Homo sapiens: one gene and its partner. The protein of the gene in region 2 purifies or fractionates together with the protein of the main gene of each other region. This does not show direct contact. Each region holds a gene or a part of one and is shown on either strand. Other genes may lie near its edges. The genes, in order: PPIP5K2 and URGCP.

The links.
Region 1: the proteins of URGCP (region 2) and PPIP5K2 purify together in Homo sapiens (affinity purification with mass spectrometry, with the first as the bait; one large-scale study listed by BioGRID). This does not show direct contact.

The regions. Positions count from the first base shown.
Region 1 is NC_000005.10:103,151,090-103,154,915, forward strand, and holds part of PPIP5K2 (inositol hexakisphosphate and diphosphoinositol-pentakisphosphate kinase 2), read left to right. Parts: intron 1-163; coding exon 164-285; intron 286-1,558; coding exon 1,559-1,660; intron 1,661-2,758; coding exon 2,759-2,845; intron 2,846-3,580; coding exon 3,581-3,656; intron 3,657-3,744; coding exon 3,745-3,826. UniProt on the Homo sapiens protein: Bifunctional inositol kinase that acts in concert with the IP6K kinases IP6K1, IP6K2 and IP6K3 to synthesize the diphosphate group-containing inositol pyrophosphates diphosphoinositol pentakisphosphate, PP-InsP5, and bis-diphosphoinositol tetrakisphosphate, (PP)2-InsP4.
Region 2 is NC_000007.14:43,878,929-43,882,754, forward strand, and holds part of URGCP (up-regulator of cell proliferation), read right to left. Parts: intron 3,030-3,826; coding exon 2,979-3,029; intron 2,770-2,978; coding exon 2,731-2,769; intron 333-2,730; coding exon 1-332. Other genes in the region: URGCP-MRPS24 (uncharacterized protein LOC100534592), read right to left, coding at 2,731-2,769, 2,979-3,029. UniProt on the Homo sapiens protein: May be involved in cell cycle progression through the regulation of cyclin D1 expression. May participate in the development of hepatocellular carcinoma (HCC) by promoting hepatocellular growth and survival.

The DNA of each region.
Region 1 (3,826 bases), on a different chromosome or scaffold from region 2:
TTATAAATAAGTAATTTCTTTCATTTCTTATTATGAAGTAAACCACTATATAGTAATATACTTTTAAGCATTTATAAAATTTGATATGTTCTGATAGGACTAGAAAACTGTGAATCTTAATAATTTAAATAAAACCTTAAAGTTTATAACTTATTTTAAATAGCAAACAGTTTGTGGCTTTGATTTGTTACGGGCCAATGGACAGTCCTATGTCTGTGATGTCAATGGCTTCAGTTTTGTGAAAAATTCCATGAAGTATTATGATGACTGTGCAAAAATACTTGGGTAAGAATTTTTAAATTTTTCTTTTTACCTTCATATACTAGTTATTCAGAAACCAAATAACTGTTAACATTAAATGATCAGGGTTTTTAAGCATTCTAGAGTAAAGATCAGTGTTCATAAAATGATACCCCCAGAGACTATGCCAGATCCTGAATTATACTTTGGCTTATCAAAGACAGATTAATTTATGATCAGTATAGATGAAAACCTTTAACTTCATATGTTTACAAATACTATAACATGCTGATTATTAGTCAAAAGTTTATTTGTTAGAATACTTTATTCCTCAAATTTTTGCCATGTAGTTATAGTGGAAAAGGTTTTCTTCTACTTAATGGACAAAATTAACATTCATGAAATAAACAGAGTAAAATAGAAATATTTAGAATTCATGACTCTTTTGCATGACAATTCATTCTACAAGCATATGTTACTTGATGATATTTTCATAAGATTATCAAGTGAATGTAAAAAAATTATTGTAGGTAGAAATGCCATTTTTATATTCTTCAACCTGTTTTCTTTATACCTTGATTCAGAAGACTAGCAAGGCAATAACTATTTTTAAGACATTTCCAGGTATATATGACAAATCCATAGGAAACTTACATTAAAAAATGTTCGATAATTGGAGCTAGCTTTTATACTGGTTAAGTATCCCTTATCCAAAATGCATGGGACCAGAAGTGTTTTGGATTTCAGATTTTCAGATTAAGAACATTTAACCCACAGTATGTTTCAAAGATTTACAAACTTACCCTTAAAGTGATGTAAGGGAGAGTTTACTAAATTTTAGCATAAATAAATGCTAAATTTAAACAAAGCCAAAAAGTAAACATTTTTCCATTTTTAACCCTATTAGTATAGTAGTGATTTGTTAAGATGAACACAATATTTAGAGTAGCATTATAGATGTTCAATAAAGTGATAAGAATTTATCAGTAGCCACACAGAAGAGACAATCTTGAATTTCAGAATGTATGTAGTTAGATGTGATGTAATTGTAGTGATTTCTTTGAATCCAATGTTGATTGATATTTTAAAACTAAAGTAAATAATCTCAAATTTGTGAAATCCCATTGATGTGTCTAATACATCAATTTGGAACTGCTGATTTTTATTTTTTCTTGATCAGAATGGATTCTGTGGGTTATCTTTTATGTGATGTAATCACTAGATAGTTTAACTCTTATGATTCTCTCTCATCCTCATTAAGTACCCAGTTTTGTCTTAAAACGTACTAATTTTAAATCTTTTCTTTTTTGTCTTGAAGAAATATTGTAATGCGAGAACTTGCTCCACAATTTCATATTCCATGGTCAATACCCTTAGAAGCTGAAGATATCCCAATTGTACCAACTACATCTGGAACTATGTAAGTCTGAATTATTTTCATTTAGAAATTGAGTTTTCCTTGCCATCTGTGCTATTAGGATAAAAATTAAATTTCTGAATGATGATTAGACACTTTAGTGTGTATGATTTCATATGATTCAGCTTGAAGATAGAGGAGTAGATTATACGTATTTATAAGGGTCCACTAATTGTTACAAATAAACTACTGAAACATGCCTGGATAATTATAGAATTGTTTAATCAAGCCATAAAAATAAAAAAGGTACCAATAGGAATGTTACTTAAAGGTTCATAGTGGTCTTACAACTTTTGCTCTCTCAAGTCATATCTTGCATAATTATACCAGTATTGCCAAAATGTTTTATAACATTCTCTTACTGAAAATTATTCCTTTAAATTCATGTCAGTTGACTGAATGCTTTTTTTTCACAACTTAGATATTTATATTAACATGTTAAATATCCTGAGATGTACTGATGATGGGGGGAACTAATTTTGTTTTTAATCAGCATTTTTCATACTGATTTAACACGCAAGTGTTAAATAAAATTTTTTTCAGGTAACTCAATTGATAATCCTGCAGGGTTATGTTCTGCAGTTCACACTTCAGCACACACTAGATTATACCTCTGAATTCTAGCATGCTTCTAAGATGATTTTATCTTCCAGTAATTTGAGTTGTAAATACTTGTTCTCCTTACATGGGCAAAACTTAGCAAATATATAAATATAGCAACCATCATGTAAAGTTTTATTTTGATTTAATGAAGTCTCAGTCTGTAGTGACCTAATGCTATGGATCAGATATATAAGAAAGCTCAGAAATTGTAGTCCATCTACTTTTATCCCAGAGTTAATGTAGCCATTTCTAGAGAAGAAAAGGTTGTATTCTACTATATAGCTTAATATCACCTCCCTCCCCCAGCTTCTTAAGTTCTTTTTGAATTTTATTTCATAAAGTTAAAACTAGATTGTTATAAGTATTATTCTTCATGGGAAAGATCTTGAAGTGGTAAAAGATGGCTTTAAATAGATGACTAAATGTTCATATTAATCTGAATTATACAACACAAATCTTTTTTAGAGAATTAAGAACATATATATTTTTTCATTTTAGGATGGAACTTAGATGTGTCATAGCTGTTATACGTCATGGGGATCGAACACCAAAACAAAAAATGAAAATGGAAGTGAGACATCAGAAGTATGTTTTCAGATGAATAATTTAACATGCATGATACAATTTTAAGATTTCTGATAAGTGATCAACTCTTTTGATTAATACATCATATAGAAAAACTTTTATCTACTGTCTCTTGGCCATTTATATTTAAACCAGTGGGTGGGTACAAAATCCATTTAAAATATGTTCATTAGCATCTAAAATTATTGTGGCAATATTCATAAATATCATCAGTCTGCCCTGGCTTTCATTTATTGTCATAAAGGTGTTCTATTTAATCTTTGCTTATCACTCTCTTGTATTGCATTCTGAGAGTGAGTAATCCCTCAGCCTTTTAGAAGAAAATTAGTAGAATGAAAGTTTCTGTTATTTCTATCCAGTGTTTGGTTTGGAGATGATAAAATTTGAAAACCCTGAGCCATTAAGTATGTGTTGACACAAGTAATTTTCAATGTATATGCAATGACTTCAGAAAATATATAATATTATGAACTATAATTGTATGTTTGGTTTCCGTGAAAAAACTTTGAAAAGTAGTATGGTGATTATTAGTTTGGTATCATTTAGGAAAGTACTAAGTTTTATCAATCAAAGTTGAGCAGCAACATGTACAGTGAAAGAGGAAACACAGTACTTGAAATCCTTAGATCCCAAGTTCTAGTCCCATAGCTTATCATTTATTATTTGTTAGTTTAAACATATATTGGTAATGTTAATTATTGCAAGTGACTAACAGTGTTCTGTCTTTTTTATAAGATTTTTTGATCTTTTTGAAAAGTGTGATGGATATAAATCAGGGAAATTAAAACTCAAAAAACCAAAACAGTTACAGGCAAGTGTATTTGCTTTCTTGTTTAATTTTAAATTTTTTAGTGGTGAAATTACATAAAAATTCAATTTTTTATTAATTTATTTTATAGGAAGTGCTAGATATTGCACGACAGCTTCTTATGGAGCTAGGGCAAAATAATGATTCTGAAATTGAAGAAAACAAGCCAAAAC
Region 2 (3,826 bases):
ATCAGGGGTGGGCAGCTCAGAAAAGGAATAAATGTCGGCAGCAAGGTCATCAGCTGGGTCCCAGTAGATGATCTCCTCTTCCATCTGGCTCTCCTTCTCCACAGGCCTGGCGTCTGGGAGCACGTCCAGCACCATAGTGGTATTCCTGGCATCAGCATTGAGGGCCTGCAACTTCCTGAGGAAATTCCAGGGCAAGTCTTTGGGAACCTGAGGGGCCCAGTTCTTCATACTGTCAAAACTGATCTGCAGAGAGTCCTGGAGGCTGAGTTTCTGGACCTGGTACGTCTCTAGGCCCAAAAGTGACAGCATTTCTTGAAGCCTGCTTCTCTCCACTGTGGAAAGAAATGAAGACATAAGTGCTCACCCTGTGTTTCTGAGCTAGGGGCCAGGGAAGAGCTGGTGAAGGAGAGCCCAGCAGGATGGGGAGAGTGACGACCCCCTTCAGAGAGCAGAGTGCAGGCACAGGAGGCTCAGGGTGTGCTCAAGGCTGACCTGAGATCAAGGCAGGGCTGGAACCCGGACATCAAGGTACAATAGGTACCAACCTAACCACAGATATATGTGACATTAAACAAAAGAAAGAACAGAAATAAATAAGCTACATTTAACAACTGGAAGAGTTCTTGCAAAAGCCATATTTCTGGTCTTTCTAGAAACCTGTAAGATCTAACACTGAGCTCAAAATTAATTGGCTACAGTGAGCAGCACATGACTCCTACAAGCTGAATGCAGGCCTCACCTCCCCACTGTGTTGCTTCCGTGGGCTACTCAGAGTCACCGGGAAGTTCCCACAGGAGTCATAATCACTGAATCACTCTCTGGCTTTCTAGTTAATGTTTTTTTGTGTTTTTTTTCTCTCTAGAAATAAGAGAATATTTTAAAGGAACTAGAAAGAAATCACTAAGCATAAAGAGTCAGCAATTATAGCTAAACAACCATTTTGCAAACCTGAAATCAATAATGCAGGTTTTCTTTTTTTTCTTTCTTTTTTCCTCTCCCCTTTCTTTTTTTTTTAGACAGGGTCTTACTCTGTTACCCAGGCTGTAGTGCAGTGGCATGATTTCAGTTCACTGTAGCCTCAACCTCCTGGGCTCAAGAGATCCTCCCACCTCTGCCTCCCAAGTAGCTGGAACTACTGGTGTGTGCCACCACACCCAGCTCATCCTTGTATTTTTTTGTAGAGATGGGTTTTTGCCATGTTGCCCAGGCTGGTCTCGAACCCAGACTCAAGCAATCCACCTGTCTAGCCCTCTCAAAGTGCTGGGATTACAGGTGTGAGCCATGGTGCCTGGCTTTAATGCAGTTTTAAATTTTAAATGTATTAAAATATTCAGTGCAGACTGTTAGTAAGTGAGCACTTACTTGCGCAGATACTCAAATATCACCCTATACAATATAAGATCTTATAAGCTAGATGCTTGAAACAGTATTGCTACCTCTGAAGATTCCATTCACCATCCAGGTCTTGGCCCAGCACCTTACTAATGTTCATGCTGCATATTAATTAGTTGTCTTAAAATTTGTTGTTGTTTGAGGCAGTGTCTCACTCTGTCACCCAGGCTGGAAGGCAGTGGTGTGATCACAGCTTATTGCAGCCTTGATCTCCTAGGCTCAAGAGATCCACTCATCTCAGCTTCTGAGGAGCTGGGACTACAGGTGCACAAGACACTTGGCTAGTTTTTGTATGTTTTGTAGAGACGGGATTTTGCCATATTGCTCAGGCTGGTCTTGAACTCTCTGGCTCAAATGATCTGCCTGCCTCAGCCTCCCAAAGTGCTGGATGTGAGGCACCGTGCTGAGTCACTTTAAATGTTAATGCATGAAGTAAATACAAATTCCACTGCCCTGCAGCCTTTTTTCCAGTTCCTTTCTCGAGAGAGGAAGCAACGTGTATGATACTGCTTTGATGCTTAGATAAACCATGAAAGGAAACACTGGGTGACCCAGCCCTCTGCCTGTTTCCCAAGAAGGTCAAGTGATGGATTCAAGACCACTTTCCATACGACCAGCAGGACTCACAGTGCTGGACACTCTGCTCAGAGAGTTCCACAGGCATTGTGGCCACAGGACTGCCCCACAGAACATTAGGGGACCTATGAACTTGTTACAAAAACAAAAGTACTATATGGGAAGAGTCACATTGTGCCAAAACAGGTGTTACTCAGGTTTCCTAGCTTTGCCTGAATGAAACTAGGAACATTGTTTTTCTTGTCCAGACATGGAATAACTTTTTATTTTTTAAGTAGCATGGTAGTAAAAGGCAATGGGAAAAAGACAAAGAAAACACTTCTGCCCAGTGTGTGGCCCTTGGCAGGTTGTTTGGAAGCTCTGGGCCCAGTATCCTGATCTGCAAATGAAGGCGTTGGACCAGATAAATCGTTTCCAAACCGGGCTGTACATTAGAATCAATCACTTCAGGAACTTGTTAAAAAATGAAACATCTCTGGGTTTCACCTCCAAACATGCTAACTTATTAAAGGCAGTGAGTATGTTGGGTGGTGGAGGGGGGGCCTGGTTACTCTATGTGGTTAGCAAGCTTCCCAGGGTTTTTTTTTTTTTTTTTTTTTAGCAATATGGTTAACAATGTATAAAGGGTTAATGAAGTAGGGCATCCTAAACCTGAGTGCTCTGCCTCCCCAGGTGATTTGATACAGTCAGGTGTGGGAACTGCTGGCCTAGATGATAACCCCCTTTCATAGAACAGAGAGAAAAGGCAGAGAAAATGCTTACCTGTTGGAAAATCATTGTCCTGAGCCTCATTTGTACCATCTATGGAAAAAGCAATGGAAAATGAAGTGTCAATCAAATAATGCACCCTTGGCTGACACAAATTAATTGAAGCTAAACCTAGAACCCTTCTTTCTCACCAAGATGGCAACTTCTCCCAATTGTTCTAAATATAAAATCCCGGTTATCTGTCACTTTACCCACTCCCCCTCTCCCCAGTCCAATCTGTTGCCAAATCCTGTAGTTTCTACCTCCATAACGGAACTCGCAATCATCTCCTTCCATTTCTCTCCATTCCAAATCTAGAAGAAAAAAGAAACCAAATACATTTAGTTTCATCAGCAAGTTAGAACCTTTCTGTCAAAAATTTCAAGTGCTCATGCCTGTAACCCCAGCACTTTAGGAGGCTGAACAAGAGGAGTGCTTGAGTCCAGGAGTTTGAGACCAGCCTGGGCAACAAAGCAAGACCCTGTGTCTACAAAGACTTTTTTTAAAAAATTAGGCCAGGCATGGTGGCTCATGCCTGTAATCTCAGCACTTTGGGAGCCCAAGGCAGGAAAATCACTTGAGGTCAGGAATTTGAGACCAGCCAGCCTGGCCAACATGGCGAAAAACCATCTCTACTAAAAATACAAAAATTAGCTGGGCGTGGTGGCGCATGCCTGTAATTCCAGCTTGGAATTACTTGGGAGGCTGAGACAAAATAATTGCTTGAACCCAGGAGGCGGGGGTTGCAGTGAGCTGAGATCATGCCACTGCACTCCAGCCTGGGCGACAGAGTGAGGCTATCTCAAAAACAAACGAACAAACAAAAATTAGCTGGGCATGATGCCACGAGCCTGTGGTCCCAGCTGAGGCAGGAGGATTACTTGAGCCTGGGAGGTCAAGGCTGCAGTGAGCTGTGATTGCACCACTGCATTCCAGCGTGGGCATCAGAGCAAGACCCTGTCTCAAAAAAAAAAAACACCAAACAACAACAAAAAACGTCAAGTGACAATATGGTGGCTGATGTTTTAGTGCTATTATTGGTTTCAGTTTTTCCTATGTAAATGTAATGTTTTGCCAGCAAAAAATACATCACAAGGTAGTAATAGCTACA